2 separate regions of the Homo sapiens genome follow, and region 2 is linked to region 1. A link means that fine-mapping ties the variant in region 1 to the expression of a gene that starts in the linked region. Tissue or cell type: whole blood. Region 1 holds a variant in brackets; the other region holds the start of a gene. All regions are shown on one strand. Distances are between the middles of the regions.

Region 1 (8,100 bases):
TCCTGTGTCCGCGGCTCTGATGCCTGGATGGAAAAGGGTGTGAAGCAGGCCCGAGATGGTGAGGACCACGCCCGGCGGTGTGCCAAATCCATGGGTTCCTGTCCCGCCTGCCTCTTCCAGATCTCAGCCAGGCCAGGAGGCAGGGGCTCAATGGGGCAGCCCCCAAAGCCCTCAGTTCATTCCGCACTATGTGCCTGTGCTGTGGGTGGCTGTTGCCTGTGGAGTGGGCCCAGTGGACTGGGACTGAGCCGCTGTCCGCCAGCATAAACCGGAGCCCTCACATCCTGGGCAGCCGGCTTCCAGTTTTAATTTAGTGCAACCAAAGGAAATCCATAACTTGCTCTAACTCTGCTCCTTTGAGAGACTCATTGTGTTGTCCTCCACCCCAGCAGGGGAGATTCACAGGGAGCAGGGGGCATCCTCGGGGAACCCCATGTCCTCAAGCGGAGACAGGAATGAGGAAAGGCTGGTGGGCGTGTCGAGTCCCCAGCATGGGCTCCTTGAAGCACAATCCCCCTCCTCCCAGAGAACTGGAGATGACGGTGTTGGTCTCTTTATGTCCAGCTCCTTAGGAGAAGCATGTGGGGCCACTCAGAGGGAGGCCTGTCCTTAATGGCCAGAGCCCTCCCAGGGACTGTAGGAGGGCCTGGGGGCTGCTGCACACCCAGGAGGTGGTGTGTGGCTTGGACTGGACTCAGAGTGGAGGCCATCCTCAAGGACATGGGGAAACTGAGGCAGGAGCTCACTGTTTCTAGGAGAGCATGGCACGGCAGGGAGCAGAGGATGGCCCAGCGCCCAGGTTGCTGACCCCTCCTTGCTGAGCCGGGATTGTGGTGATGCCAGCCATGTGCTGAGCCCTGCTCTAGGCTCTGGAATGTGGTGGGGACAAGACGTGGTCCTGCCTGTGTCGAGCTCCTACTGGGAAGGATGGATGACAAAACCTGACATGAGAGTGACAAGTGCCATGAAGGTTCTGTCGGGGATAGAGGTGGTGCCATCTCTGAGGAGGCCACAGCTGAGTAGAGGCCTGGAGGAAGGGGATGAGCCCTGGGGTTCTGGGGAGAGCATTCCTGGCAGAGGGAATGGCAAGTGTGCTGGCCCTGGGGCTGGAGCTTGGGGTGCAAGAGAAGTGCAAGGGGAGGACGCCAGGGCTGGACAAGGGTTGCTGTGCGTGGTCTGGACTCAGGGAGCTGTTGAGGGTTGTGTGGAGGAGTGACAGGGTCCTGCATGTGTCTTGCCAGGACCAGGAGAGGAAAGCAGGTGGAGGGCGGTGACCGCCGTGGGCTGATGTGTCTGCACCCCATTTTCCAGATGGGCACGTGGAGGTGCGAATAGTCCAGCTAGTTGGTTGGGGCACGCGGTGGGTGCCAGGATCTGCCCCAGGCCTGCCCGACCATGCGTTGTGCTTGTCCCATCTGCACGTGGATGCTCAGCGGTCAGTGCCTCCAGGTGTACCCTGGTGGGGAGAGTAAGGCCACAGCTCTGCAGTCCCCCATGCAGGCCTAAGGAGTGTCTCAGAGGAAGCATTTGGGGACTGGCCAAGCCTCCACAGGGAGTGACCTCGGCCCGCCCCCTGCCTGGGCTTGGCTGCTCTGGCTCTGGGCCCCTGGTTGAGCTCCTGGTCTCCTCCGAGCTGAGCTGGGCTTGGGAAGCATCTGCTTCATGCCAGAGCTCGCAGGAGCTATCACCTTCGATGTCATTTCCACAGAGTGGCCTCAGGGCAGGCATCAACCCATTTTACAGAGGAGGAAACCGACCGCGGAGCTGAGGATTTGCAAGTGCACCATCTCCAAGGGCAGGGCTGCTTGTGGGAAGTCCTGTGCTTTCCTGTGGAGTCCTGCCTTGCAGCCTTGGAGCAGCTTTACTGGCAGAAAACATGGCGGGGAAGTGCGCAGCCCAGCAGCTCAGCTGTGTCTGTGGGGGAACCGGGGCCTGCACCGGTTCAGAGTGCCCTGTCCTGATCACTTCCCTCGTGCGATAGCTCCATCATCCAGGTGTGCTTACTGGCAGGAACCGAGGGAATAAATAAAGATCACTGGAAGAAACCTTCAGAATGGGAGGATTCCTGTGTCCTGAGACCATGGTGGAGGCCAGTGTTGCTTGGTTTTGTGCAAACGGGAGGCCCTGTCCAGAGCCTCGGAGGATGATGGGGCCTGTCCCCACCTTCCACAGGGTGTCCCTGCTGTCAGCTCAGTGACCCCGTTCTGGGGGACTCTTGCTCAGGCGTCATCCCATCCACACAGAAAGGGCTCTTCCATGGCCACGGTTTTCAGACCCTTTACATTTGTAAATTGTTGGCAGCAGAATCCTATTTCTGAAAGAAACCTCTATGGAAGCAGCTATGGAAATCAGAGGAAAGTGGAGAGGTTCTGGGAGGCGGAGGGAGACCTTCCAGTGCAGCCCTGCCTTGGGATCCGTGTCCAGCAGAGCACAGTCACATCCCCTCCACACCAGGAAGCCCCTCCTCGGGCAGGTGTTGTGAGCCAGGTGTGGGGCCACCCAGTGCGCCCGGGCCGGGCCCTCGGCCTCAGACAAGCAGAGCAGCCTTCAAAACCTGGCTGGAGGGGGGCATTTTGTTGTTTCCCCAAAAACACCCCTTCCCAAAGTACCCTGGGTGGGGGTGGGGCATCATCAGCTGCATGGGGTGACCAGAGGCCTCAAGTGCAGACAGCCAGCTGGAGGCTGATGGCAGCGTAGATGATGCGTAGACTGATGGCAGCGAGCCCACCCTTCCCTCTGTGTCCCAGCCCTAGCACAGGGGCCCGGGTGGAGCTGGCGCCTTCTCACGTCTGTGGACCCAGCTGGCTGCTATCTCCACCTCTGCAGGGGGTGTCACAGGCAGAGAAGGTGGAGGGGATGGTTGGCTCAGTGAGAGGGGGTCTGTGACTCCGAAGCACCTGAGGATGGGGTGAAGGCCCTTGACAGGTAGTGAGCCTCTCGTCACTGCACCATGTGTTAGCAGGACAAGTTTGGAGCACCCTTAGGACCATCTGGAACCACCGTGTCCCCACTAACGAAAGCAGGGCAGAGGACCTGGCCCATGGAAACATCACATGCGCAGAAAAGATGGCCAGTTTCATGTCGAAAACTGGAAGATCTGGGGTTGTCAGAACAGTTTCCAGTCCAGCACAGCCTGGCTGTGTGCTTCACCCCAGTTGGCCTTAAGTATGTGAAGGATGCAGCCTTGGGGGACCTGTGAGGGGGCTGACATTGGCCTTGGAGGGTTGGAGGGCACACGCCCACCTGAGTGCAGGCTCTGATCTGAGAATTCATCCTGCCTGGCTTCTCAGTGGGGAGCTTGCAGCCTTAGTCTCTTGCCCTTGAACTTCTGTGCAGCGGGAACAAAGGGAACAGAGATGAGTAAAGGTTGGTGAGCCTGGCACGGCGCCAGGGCCCGGCATTCATACATCTATCTCGTAAGGCCCCATGGGGCAAGATCCATTCACTTCATTTTCAGGAGACAAACTCTTAAGGAAGCTGCGTTCCTTGCTGAGGGTCCCACACTACAAGGCGACAGGACCAGGAACGGGACCAGAACCCCCAATCTGTCTGCCGCAGCGGGTTGTCTCAGCGGGGCTGGTGGCTACAGGGAACGGGGCGGCATAAGAACAGGATTTAAAGACCAGGTTCACCAGAGTAGCAAGGACATGCATTGGTTCCGTGTTGCCCTCCCTCCCCTCTCTGCAGGCACTGGATGTTAAGCCTGCAGTGGCAATGACTTCAGACATTTCCCAAAGGGAAGAAGAATGTGATAGGGCATTTGCTGCCACCTTTGCTGC[C/T]ACAAGGATCTTGTTCTTCCTCCGCCCGGGCCACCTGGGGTCCCAGAGCAATGTCCACAGGCAGCGGGAGTGATGTGCTGGCCTCATGGTGCCTGCGTGTCTGCAGACAGCACCCACCTCCAGCAGTCTCAGAGGGGCACCTCTGGGCAATTTCCCCCTCCTGCTGAGGTGCTCCCACTCCCCCAACCAGCTCAGCACCAGGGATTTTGTTGTTGGGGTGCACAGCCCCAACTTGTGAGCAGGGAGGTTTCTGGAGAGATCTGGGCTCTCCCCACCTTTGAGCCCAAGGATGCAGGTGCCTGCAGGTCCCCCGGGGCCAGCAGCAGTGGTTGGGATTGATTGGTAACTGCCACCAGCCAGGGGAAGGGTGTGGCCACACCTCTCAGACCCCAGCGCCGGGGAGGGTGTGGCAGGATGTGGGAGCCAGGCCACAGTGGCTCCCTGGAGAGCTGGGGGAGAAGCCCTGACTGAGGGGCCCACCAGGCCCCCTCTCTGTGAGACGGGGCAGCCCCACCCCACTTTGGATGGGGACTCTCCCTTTTAATCCTTTTCTGGGTCTCAGATCCCACAGAGGAAACCGATGGATCTCTTCCATCAGAGAAAATAAAATGCACAGACACACGAAGCCAGCCCACCTCGCTAGACCCCCAGAGCCCGTCCCCAGACCCGTGGGCCCCATGCCCCGGCTCCACACATCCACCTCTCCTGCACCCATCTCTTCCCAGGGCCTCAGCAATCACCCACACCTCGTGGCTGACTGCCGGCAAACTCAAATCACATTTGACAACCAACACTGTGTGTACAGTCAGGGAGAGAGAGAGATTTATTAGCTTTCATGCGGGGAGAAACACAGGGACCTCAATAGTAGCATACATTTCTCATTTGTTGTAAACTCCAGGAAAGAATTAAGGAACACTAATATTTTCCACATTTAGTCACACCCGAGAGTTGTGAGAGGCAGGGGAGGGAAAGGGAAGAAAATCCGATCTTGTGTGTGGGATTTGGGGACTGGGCATGCACTGGGCAATTTCACTTGATTCTCGCTGCTGCTGCAGGCATAACCTGTGTGGGTTTCTTTTCTCTTTTTCTCGTACCAGCCCACTTAAGTAGGTATTAGTGTCAGCAGCAGCAGTAATAGCGCAAGATGACATGGGGTAGGGGGGTACTTAGAAGAAATTCAGGTGTTTCAGGGAAGGGAGGGGGTCTCCCAGGGGCAGGTTCGACCCCAGGCTTCCTGCTGGAGAGGTGTCATCTGTGGTGTAGCTTAAACCATTGTCTTGGTCCCTTCCTGTGGAGCAGCTGCCCAGGCTCACATGGACATGGTGCTCACACCCATAGGCACACACAGACACAGGGCTCACACCCACAGGCACACACAGACACAGGACTCACACCCACAGGCACAGACACGGGGACTCACACCCACAGGCACAGACACGGGGGCTCACACCCACAGGCACAGACACGGGGGCTCACACCCACAGGCACACACAGACATGGGGGCTCACACCCACAGACCCACATAGACACTGGGGTACACACAGACAAACACAGGCACAATCTGTGCCAAAGTTTTGAAGCACGAAATTAGACAAACCCAGCATTGGAGAGCTAGGGGAAGCTTGTATTTTAAATTCCACTGGGATCCCGGAAGTGGCATGCAGAGCGCGTCAGTTTCGCCTTGTCAGTCATTGCAGCAGCCCCCACTTCAACAGCACTCACCTGCCTGGCCTCTTGTCTGAACAGTTTGCACATTTTATCTTGATTCACCCTCCCCACTTTTTGGGGGTTCTGGGTACTAGAATTATCCCCATGTTACAGGGCACAGAGAGGGGAAGTGCCCCGCCCAAGGCCATACCACATGTGAGCAGGGAGCCGGGCTTTGCTCCCCAGGAGCCTGCCGGGAGCCCTCACTCTTCCCTGGGGAGTTCAGCACCTCTGGACCTGTTTCTCAAGGAGCCAACCAGGAATCTGTGAAACAAGAGCAAGGAGAAAAGACAGCAGGCTACGTGGCAGGGAGAATCCCCACCCGGCTGTGAGGACAGTCAGGCGGAGGGGAGGAAGGGAAGAGAGTGGGGTTATGTCGAGCTGGGTGGGGAGGCTGGGGCACAGTCCGGGACCAACCCCTTGAGGCTTGGATAAACATAATGTGGTCTGTCCACACGGTGGAATAGACAGACTGTGGAACCTGCCACAGGAGGCTCCCAGGTGAGTGGAGGTTGGGAAATGGTAGCGGGTGGCTCAGCCAAGTCCACAGCACAGCCAGAACAGGGGCCTGAAGCCAGGACGGTCTGCAGCCGCCAGTGAGCAGGCAAAGTGGTGAGGCCTGCAGACCCCTCAGGATGGAGGAAGGGACAGTGCTGGATGGAGGGTGGCATGTCTCAAAGTGTGTTCCCAGAACACTTGCATCTGGTCCCTGGGGTGGTTGTTGGCACGCAGGTGCCCAGACTCTGTCCCAGACCTGAAGTCTGGGTCTCTAAGAGACTCTGCCCTGGAATCTGCATTTCTAATGAGCACCTCACGTGACACTTTGTTTTCTGTGATAAAATACACAGCGTAACATTTACCATTGTCACCATTTTTAAGTGCACATTGCGGTGGCATTAGTACCTTCACTTTGCTGTGCAGCCACCACTGCCACCCATCTCCAGGACCTTTTCCTCCTCCCAAATACAAACTCTGCCTCCATTAAACATCAACTCTCCATCCTCCCTCCCCCAGCCCCGGGCACCCACCATTCTACTTTATGTCCTGCTAGGGACCTCACACAAGTAGAATGAGACTGTTTTTCACGTTTCGTGACGGGCTTATTTCGCTTCACATAGTGTCCTCAGGCTTCATCCATATTGTTGTGTGGGTCAGAATTCCCTTCCATTTCATGGTTGGATTCGATTCCAAGGTGTGTATAGACCACATTGTGTTTATCCACTCAGCTGTGGACACTGGGGTACACTACTCTTTATTTATTACCTAATAATATTTAATACATAATTTTATCATTATTCTCCAAGTCTGTGTAGCCCATGAGGCTGTGGCTCTGTCTCCTGCGCCCCTGACTCCAGCTCACTTTCGTGGACTGTCACATCTGACCTGCCCCCTGCCCTCTCTCCCCAGACCTGCAGCCGGGCCAGGCTGGGTCCTCTCTCTGCTTGTCACCACCCCGTGAGAGGCCTCCCCGCCTTTCTTCTCCCTGCCACCTCCCTGCCTTGCTGGGAATGCAGATGACGCCTCCCTGTGAATTACTGCTACAAGCGTTTCCTGCGACAGCCTCCTGCCAGAGAGGGAGGTCATCAGGGAGGTGGACAGAGACCTAGCCTGGGTTGGGGGCAGTGGACCCCCTTCCTCCAGAGAAGAGGGCAGCAGAAGCCACTCGGCGTTGGTGCCCCCCAGATCCTGCTAGCTGGGCACCTTGGCCCATGTTCTTGTTTCCTCCTGTCTATGATAGGACAGTGGTGGGGCTGAGTGGCTAGTGCAGGGTCTCAGAACAACCCATCTAGGATAGCAAACACTTCGCAACTCCCTTTGTCGTCCTGAAGTGAGACTCAGCTGAGAAAGCACACCCAGCACGTATTTTATAAAAAAACCAGTACAGTGCCCTAACTATTATAAAGTAGAAGGCAAAGGAAAGTGAATTATGATCCAAGTAATCCAGGTTTCAACACGTCAGTGCACTAGGTTGGGGCCCGGCATGTTTCTCCTCCGAGGCAGGGGAGGCAGTGACATCCGCCTCTCGGCGTGGGAGCACCAGAATGTGACTGCTGCAAGTGCATTGGAAGAGCAGATGTCAGCAGCTCAGAAGTCATGCACGGCATCGCCAAAGGGGGTGTGAGTTTCTGAAACCATGAACAGCTTTGGTCAAGTTCAAAATAAAAATAGTCCAACTTCCTGAGGTTTAGAGACCCGTTGTGCTCTTGGGAAAGTCAGTGCTTAGGTGGAAATCAGAGTTAGGGTCTTGGCATAGTAATTTATAGTTTAGAAGAAACATTCACATTCATTATTGCATTTGGTAGAGACAGCAAAGTAGGGCTCATCATCCCCATTTTATAGAGAATAATAGTGTCTATTGTTTGTGTCCCCCAGGTTCACATGTTAAAACCCTAATCCCCATCATGTTGATATTTGAAGGTGGGGCCGTTGGGAGGTGGTGAGGTCATGCAGGTGGAGCCCTCATGATGGAATTTGTGTCCTTATAAAAAGAGATGAGAAAGCTAGCTTCCTCTCTCTCTCCCCACCATGTGAGGCTGCAGCAAGAAGACCAGATCCCCGCTATGTGGCACCCTGATCTGGACTTCCCAACCTGTGAGAAATAAATTTCAGTTTT
Region 2 (8,100 bases), 250 kb before region 1:
GAGCACTGAACTGAATGCCTCAGCCCTCAGAACTTCAGCCACTAATAGGAGCTGTGTCCTTCTCTGGAAAGAGGTCACAAGCAGGCAGCCAGTGTGCCCAGTTTGGTCTACAGGTGGGCTTTTACAATCTTATAATGAGTGCCACATTAAGAAATCAGGGCCGGGTGTGGTGGCTCACCCCTATAATTCCAGCTACTTCGGAGGCTGAGGCAGAAAAATTGTTTGAACCCGGGAGGCGGAGGTTACAGTGAGCTGAGATCGTGCCACTGCACTTCAGCCTGCTCAACAAGAGCGAGACTCAGTCTCAAAAAAAAAATCAGGAAATGTCACTTAATAATCTGGATTCCTGGCTTCTCTTTGAAGACCAGGTGCTCTGGCCATGCCGGGCCCACAGTGGAGCTGAGGAGCCGCCCCTTGGGAAGGGGCAGGAGTTCACCTCAGACTCTACCACCGGCCCTCCCACTTGTTTCTCTTCTCTGCTGAGCCCTGAGGGTTTCAAATTAGTTTTTAGACCAACAATTTTCAACAAAACTTCAGCAGAAGTACTTAGACCAGAGTCTTAAACTTCAGCCCAATATAAAAAATAGGGTGGGTGCGGTGGCTCACGCCTGTAACCCCAGCACTTTGGGAGGCCGAGGTGGGCAGATGACCTGAGTTCAGGAGTTCGAGACCAGCTTGGCCAACACGGCGAAACCACATCTCTACTAAAATACAAAAAAAATTAGCCAGGCATGGTGGCACGCGCCTGTAATCCTAGCTACTCACTCAGGAGGGTGAGACAGGATAATTGCTTGAACCCGGAAGGCGGAGGTTGCAATGAGCCGAGATCACATCACTGCACTCCAGCCTGGGCGACAGAGTGAGACTCCATTTCAAGAACAAAAACCAACAAAAAAATGAACAAACAAACAAACAAAATAGACCAAAGTGAAAGAGCTATGTATGGTTGGAGGACAGGGGCTGGGGTCTCGGAGGCGTGTCGACAGAGCACAGCTTGAAAGTCATAATGTAGAAGCCTAAAATTCTATGAAGGCTTTCATACGCCCTGGAGAAGGGGAGGACACCACCCTCAGAGTGGCCTGGCCCAAACTGAGGTCTGCCTTTTTATGACCTCTCTCCTTCTCTTGGGGACCACAGACTCCCATGTTCCTCCAACACTAGGGACATGAATGGGTGCCCTGTGAGACTTGGCTTCCCCAGGCTGAGTCACCTCCTGCCTCTGGCCACTCCTGGCCAGCAGCCCCCTGCCCCAGGCCCGCAGCCCCCCAGGCCCGACATCCTGTACCTTGAGCTCATTAAGATAGCGCCTCGTGTGCACCACCAGCAGGTCCTCCTCCGAGGCCTCCCGCGCCTCCACCAGCATGCTGTCAGACAGAAGCTTCTCTTCTGAAACCACAGAGGGAGCATCCTGCTTCCCCACTGACCTCAAGGCCAGGGCCAGCCCCAGACCCTCCCACAGGCTGCAGACTTGGCCTGTGGCAGCCCCTGCCCCAGGGGTAGGTAGGCACTGCTGGCTTGTGGGCCTTCTGAGAAGGGGTAGCCTCCCCAGCCACTGTGGACAGTGGCCAGTCCCTCTGGCCAGGGAGCAATGAACATCGTACACACAGCAATCCCCATGTTTCCCAAGCCACTGATAGTCACAAGGAGAGCTCAGGTGTGCTAGACAACCTTCAGGAGCAGGTGGCACAAGGGTCAGGGATGTTGACCCTCAGAGTGAGAAAAACTCTTCTTAGGAATTCCCCCTCCACCTTCCCCCCGCCCTTTTTTTTTTTTTAATTCATTTAAAGAGACAGGGTCTTGGCCAGGTGTGGTGGTTCACGCCTGTAATCCCAGCACTTTGGGAGGTTGAGGCAGGTGGATTGCTTGAGCCCAGGAGTTCAAGACCAGCCTAGACAACATAGTGAGACCGCATCTCTACAAAATATCAAAAACATGAGGTGGGAGGATCACTTAAGCCAGGGAGGTTGAGGTGGCAATGAGCCTTGATTCCGCCACTGCACTCTAGCCTGGGTGATGGGAGTGAGACCCTGTCTCAATAAATAAATAAACAAATAAATAAATGCAAGACAAGGTCTTGCTCTGTAGCCCAGGCTGGAGTGCAGTGGCACAACCATAGCTCACTGCACCCTCGAACTTCTGGGCTCAAGTGATCCTCCTGCCTCAGCATTTCAAGTAGCTAGGACTATAGGTGCATACCACCACCCCCAGCTAAGTTTTTTATTTTTATTTTGTAGAGACAGGATCTTGCTATGTTGCCCAAGCTGGTCTCAAACTCCCGGCCTCAAGTGTTCTCCTAGCCTTGGCCTCCCAGAGTGCTGGGATTACAGGCACGAGCCACTGCGCCCGGCCTCCCTCCACCTTCTGATGATATTACAGGAGGCTCAGTGTGGCATGGCCTCGCAACACCTGCCTGTGCTTTGCTCATCTTCCGTTCAAACCACTAATCAGTCTCACAGCCTGCAGGCAATAGTAACCAGCCTGGATTGAATTATACTGTTGTTTTCATTGCATTTACTTTTTTACCATGACCTATTTATGGCAAGTGAAACTGCCTTTTCCCATTTTGATGACATAATGTTTCCTTTTAAAACAAGTTTAAGTGAATTTCCCACCTAAATCAGGCCCCTTGATTACAAACCACAGTTAAAACGATATGCTCTTCGAAGCATCATTTTGCTCAAGGGGATGAGCCCTAAAGGTAGGGCGCCTGGAGCTCTGAGTTCCAAACCCAACTCCGCCTCTTGTAACTGTGTTACTTCAGCCACTAATGGGAGCTGTGTCCTTCCCTGGAAAGAGGTCACAAGCAGGCAGCCAGTGTGCCCAGTTCGGTCTACAGGTGGGCTTTTACAATCTTATAATGAGTGCCATATTAAGAAATCAGGGCCGGGTGTGGTGGCTCACGCCTGTAATTCCAGCTACTTGGGAGGCTGAGGCAGAAAAATTGTTTGAACCTGAAAGGCGGAGGTTACAGTGAGCTCCTGAGCCTCTGCTGCGATTGTGGTGCCTACCCCGAGGGCTGCTGTGAGGACTGGACTGGAATTGGGTGCACATGTTTCCTAATCATTCTAGGACACAATTTCCCCCATCTGTAATCAAGAGAGGTGCGGTGGAGGTGCTCTACCTCCTGACTCTCTGAACCTTAGGAAATGGACTCCTCCAAGCTTCACCTTCCCTGTGCCCATCAGTAATCAGCTACCTTTCCACTAGGCCTCTTGGGCAGAGGCAGGACTTAGGCCCACAGGATGGGGAGCCAGGGAGAGTCTGAGTCAGGGACATCATATCGTGATTAGGAGTCTGTGTTGGAAAAATCATTTTGGGCGGAAGCATGGGTGGAAGGCCATCCGAGGGCTGAAACTGAAGATGGGAGAGAGCCTGAGGCTTATGTTGGGGATGAGGACGGAGAGGACAGGTGGGTTGGAGGAAGCAGATGAGAGTCCAAGGGGGACCTTCCATACCTTTTAGGAAATTGATCACTTTGCCCCATTTTCCGGCATCAAAGGGATGCAGCTTCTCCAGGCCCATGAAGGTGATGTTGTAGCGCGGCGAGTACACGATTGGCCAGCGTGTCTCTGGCACATGCTGGTACAGCTGGGTTGTGTGTAGCCTACCGTGTGGAAAAAGACAGACGCACAGCTGGGGCAGCCTCGGCAGAAAGCAGCTCCCTCCCGAGCCCGCCTGGACTGACCCACCAGCCATTGCCCAGCACCACTAGCCCCTCAGCCGCAGACAAGGGCCCCTCAACAACAGCTGCTTAAACTGGCTGCCTTTCCCGGAACCCAATTCCAATCCAGTCCTCACAGCAGCCCTGGGGGTAGGCACCACAATCGCACCAGAGGCTCAGAGAGCAGACCAGGTGTGCCCAAGGTCACAGTGCAGGTCTGTGGAGAAGCAGGCGTGCACTCAGGTGTGTCTGGCTGCAAGGCCTCCGCGCATCACCTCTGCACCGTAATAAATGCCCCCACAGCTGTGTGGCACAAGGCTTCGGCTGCAAAATGTGTGGCTGTTGTGAGGACTCAGAGAATGCAACTGAGGAGCTGAGCACAGTAAGCACTCAGAAACCCAAGTCGGGACCCAACCTGAGCCAGGGCGGGGGGCGGGGATCCCCTGACCCCGCTGCGCTGCTAACCCTTCCCATCACACCCTGGCAGTCGTCACCCAGAGACAGAAATCCGCCCCAGTGGCTGCCTCCGTGGGGGCGTCCGCGTAGCCAGGGGGCTGGGCAGCGCAGACGTCAGACCCGCGCACATCGCCCGACCGCTCCGGGTCCGGGCCCAGGCCCGCGGCCGGCGCGCGTCCCTCGGGCCACCGAGCAGGGGCGCGGGGCTGGCCTGGCGCGCCGGGAGGGCCTGGAAACACCCGTCCCGAGCGTCCCTCACCCCTCACCAGCAAATCTGGGCCCTTACCTGGCGCGCCCGCCCGGCCGTCCCCGCCCTCGCCCTAGCGCGCCCGCCCACCGGGACCCCTGGGAGCCCACCCCCGCCCTCGCCCCGCGGCACTCACATCCCGGGGCCGGCCCTCCCAAAGCTGGCCGCAGCTCCGCGACCGGGCGGGGCGGGGCGGGGCGCGGGTGGGGCCAGCCCAGGACACGCCCCCGGGCTTAGCCGCGTCCTCTGGGGGCAGAGCTCTGGCCGATTTGGCCCGCCCCGCCAGTGTTGCGACACAGAGAGCCTGCCCGCAGGAAGGCCACCCCCAACGCCCATCAAGCCCGAAGTCCCGCCTCCGCAGGCAAATACCCGGTGGAATCCCGCCTGGTTCGGAAGCTCCGCCCCCTGGCGGGAGGGCCAAGCGGGTTTCACCCCGGCCTCGCGGAAGGGGCGCGACCACCGTATGTCCTGTTCCTGCGCTTCCCAAGCTGGGTAGAAACGGCGAGAGGCTGGGGGTTAGAAACGACAGGTTCCCGGCGGGCTGTGCCGGGGCTTCGCTGTGTGACCTTGGGCTGGCGTCTGGGCTCTCTGGGCCCTTGTTTCCGCGAGTTAAACGTAGGGGCGGGGGAGTTTCTCTGGCCCTGCCGCCTGTGACCTAAGGAGCCCCGTGACCTCTCCGACCCGAGCCCACCCCCGGCCCAGTCTGCGAGCAGCTCCGGGACAAGCACTCCCGGCGAAGACATGTAGGCTCTCAGAGCCTGCGTTTCCCTCTGTAGAGCAGGCCTAGTTACTGTCTTCAGGGTGCACGCGTCTCCGTCCCCGACCCGCACCCTCACCGCCGGGGTAAGCTGAGCCAGGCCCAAGCGACAGCTGGGGTTGTCCGTGGGGCTGCAACCCAGGAGGAGGCCCCAACAATAGAGCCCCAGAGGACGGAGACAATGGGCCTCTCTGTCGGCCCAGCCGTCCCCGCCATCCAAACAGAAGCAGCTGACGGAGGACTGCCGGGCTGGGATCCCTGGGCTCCGCGGGGGCGGCTGTGTGCCAGGGCGGGGCACAAGGGAAGCGCACAGACGTTTGAAGAGGGGCCCCCGTGTGCCTGCCATGATTGCATGATGGCATCTGAGCCTCACAACCTAATCCTGAGAAAGGTGCCATAATCACCCCAACTTTATCTTGAGGGAACTGAGGTTCGGGCCTGGATTAAACCCAAACTCGGCCACCCGCCAGCATAGTGGCTTTGGGCAGGTTGCTTCAGCCTTCTGGTCCTTCATGTCTGCATCTGAAAATGAAGTACTGGGCCGGGTGCGGTGGCTCACGCCTGTAATCCCAGCACTTTGGGAGGCCGAGGCGGGTGAATCACCTGAGGTCAGGAGTTCGAGACCATCCTGACCAACATGGTGAAACCCCGTCTCTACTAAAAATACAAAAAATTAGCTGGGCGTGATGAAGGGCGCCTGTAATCCCAGCTACTCGGGAGGCTGGGGCAGGAGAATCGCTTGAACCGGGGAGGGGAGGTTGCGGTGAGGCCGCGCCATTGCAATCCAGCCTGGGCGACAAGAGTGAGACTCCATCTCAAAAAAAAAAAAAAGGAAGAAAATGAAGTTCTGGTTGCACTTCATTCTCTGGATTTCATGGGCAAGTCCAGGGAATCAAGAGACAATAATGTTGATTATTATTCAGAGACCATCTGTCATGTGCTAAGTTGAAGTCCAAATGCTTTTTGCTTGTCGAACTCTTCTGACAGTCCTAGGAGGCAAACTATTGTCATCCCCATTTTATAGATAAAGAAATTGAGGCACAGAATGGTGAAGTAACTCACTCAAAGGTCAGGGATGTGGGCAGATGTAAACCACAGAAGGAATAAGTACTATTTTATAAAGTGACAGAGTGCATGCAGTGGCCCTGTGGCATTTGTGAGAGACCGACTTCCCCTCAGGGAACTTGCTCTGTAGTTTGGGAAGCCACACAGATGATCCTCTGGTTGGGAGAATGAGGATCTGGGCAGCCTGGACCTGAAGCTGAGGCCAAAGAGAGTGGGATTGGTCTGAATAAGTGGGTTTTTAAATTTTTTTAATTTTTAAATTATTTTTTAAGAGACACAGCCTCACTATATTGCTAAGGCTGGTGTCTAACTCCTGGGCTCAAGCGATCCTCCCACCTTGGCCTTCCAAAGTGTTGGGATTACAGGCATGAGTCACAATGCCTGGCCAAGGGTTTTTAAAATTGTGTCCTGGTAGCTAAAGAGTTAAGTGGTCTGCGGAGGCCCTGGAGCTTGTGAACACCTTCAAACCACCATGAAAGCCTGGGCCAACCGGCCGCATTATCACGTGGGGAAGAAATAAGTGTTATGCACGCTGCTGTGTTTGGGGGCCTCTTTGTTGCAGTATCCTAGTGTGTCTGCTCACTAAGACACAGCACTGGGGACACAGCTGCACAGAGCAGATGAGTTCAGAAAGCCTTTGTCAAGCTAATAGTTTAGTGGGAGAGACAAGCCTTAACCTAGGAAGGAAAATTGTGATTACAAAATGTGGTAACTGCTGTGAAAGGCATAGGCTGAGACTGTGAGAGAGAGAATAATGGGGTCCCTGATTTGGACAGTGGTCAGGGAAGGCCCCTTTGAAGAAATACATTTTTTCACTTTTTAACCATATGTATTTTATTTTTAAATGGCATTTAATGAAACAAGACACTGACTTATTGAACATTGTATACTTAACTGTTTTTCCCCTTTCATGCAATATTGAAATATATTTCAACTTAAAACAAATAAGAAAGTCCCAAATATAACACTTCTTTTGAAAAATACAGGCACGGCTGGGCGCGGTGGCTCACGCCTGTAATCCCAGCACTTTGGGAGGCCAAGATGGGCGGATCACCTGAGGTCAGGAGGTCAAGACCAGCCTGGCCAACATGGCGAAATCCCATCTCTACTAAAAAGTACAAAAATTAGCCAGGTGTGGTGGCAGGTGCCTGTAATCCCAGCTACTCAGGAGGCCAAGGCAGGAGGAGCTTGAATCCAGGGGCGGAAGTTGCAGTGAGCTGAGATCACGCTACTGCGCTCCAGCCTGGGCAACAAGAGCAAGACTGTCACACAAAAAAAGAAAAATACAGGCACGCAAAGGATATTACAGAAATGCACCAAACATGAATTATTGGCACAGATACAATATTTCAAAACACTAACTAATATTAGATTGAGACATCCTATTACAACATTAAAACCATGCCCCTTTCAATTCAAGTGAGCACCTCTATTTCCATTCCAAGACCCTGTGATTTCATACACATTTAACACAACGGTAACAATAACAGTAATGCTAGCTAGTATTTGTTATGCCCTTAATGAGTGCCAAGCTCAGCTAAATATGTAAAACATGTTTTGTTTGTTTTATTGGTGAAGAGATGAGTTCTTAAACAACCAGAAGATACTGCAGGTTCAAAGTCCCGGAGGCCAGAAGGAGCTTGCATTCAAATAAGAAAATATATTTTCTCAAGGAAATATAAGTTGTATTTCTATGTAACTCTATGCACCAGGAGGGCCCCAGCAAGAAAGAGAGGTCTCACTCCACAGGGATTTCTGAAAAAAGTTTAATGAACAGGCCATTTACCTGAGATGTGGGTGAGGTTGAGGGGACCAACAGGAGATGGTGCAGCACCTGGGGTTGGCAACAGAGGGGAGGGAGCTCTCACCCCTAAACCTGAAGGGTCCAGGAGAGGGAGTGGTTTCCTGGAACCA

Evidence for each region. PIP is the estimated chance that this variant, and not a neighbour inherited with it, causes the effect.
Region 2: it holds the start of HDAC11, and the variant in region 1 is fine-mapped to the expression of HDAC11 in whole blood (TOPMed, PIP above 0.99).

Annotation. Positions count from the first base shown.
Region 1 is chr3:13,231,369-13,239,468 of GRCh38, reverse strand. It overlaps a transcript of IQSEC1 not described here. Among named protein-coding and RNA genes, the nearest start is that of IQSEC1, 160 kb to the right of the region's middle. RefSeq lists enhancers at 740-1,343, 1,344-1,948, 7,133-7,634. The variant C/T (reference allele first, on the strand shown) is at 3,780.
Region 2 is chr3:13,476,750-13,484,849 of GRCh38, reverse strand. HDAC11 (histone deacetylase 11) reads right to left here and starts at 4,544. Exons shown (of 10, transcript NM_024827.4): 1 at 4,501-4,544; 2 at 3,456-3,604; 3 at 1,286-1,386. The coding sequence starts at 4,502. HDAC11-AS1 (HDAC11 antisense RNA 1) reads left to right here and starts at 4,797. Exons shown (of 2, transcript NR_046690.1): 1 at 4,797-5,207; 2 at 7,765-7,863. RefSeq lists silencers at 1,187-1,481, 4,179-4,668 and enhancers at 3,823-4,479, 5,129-5,188.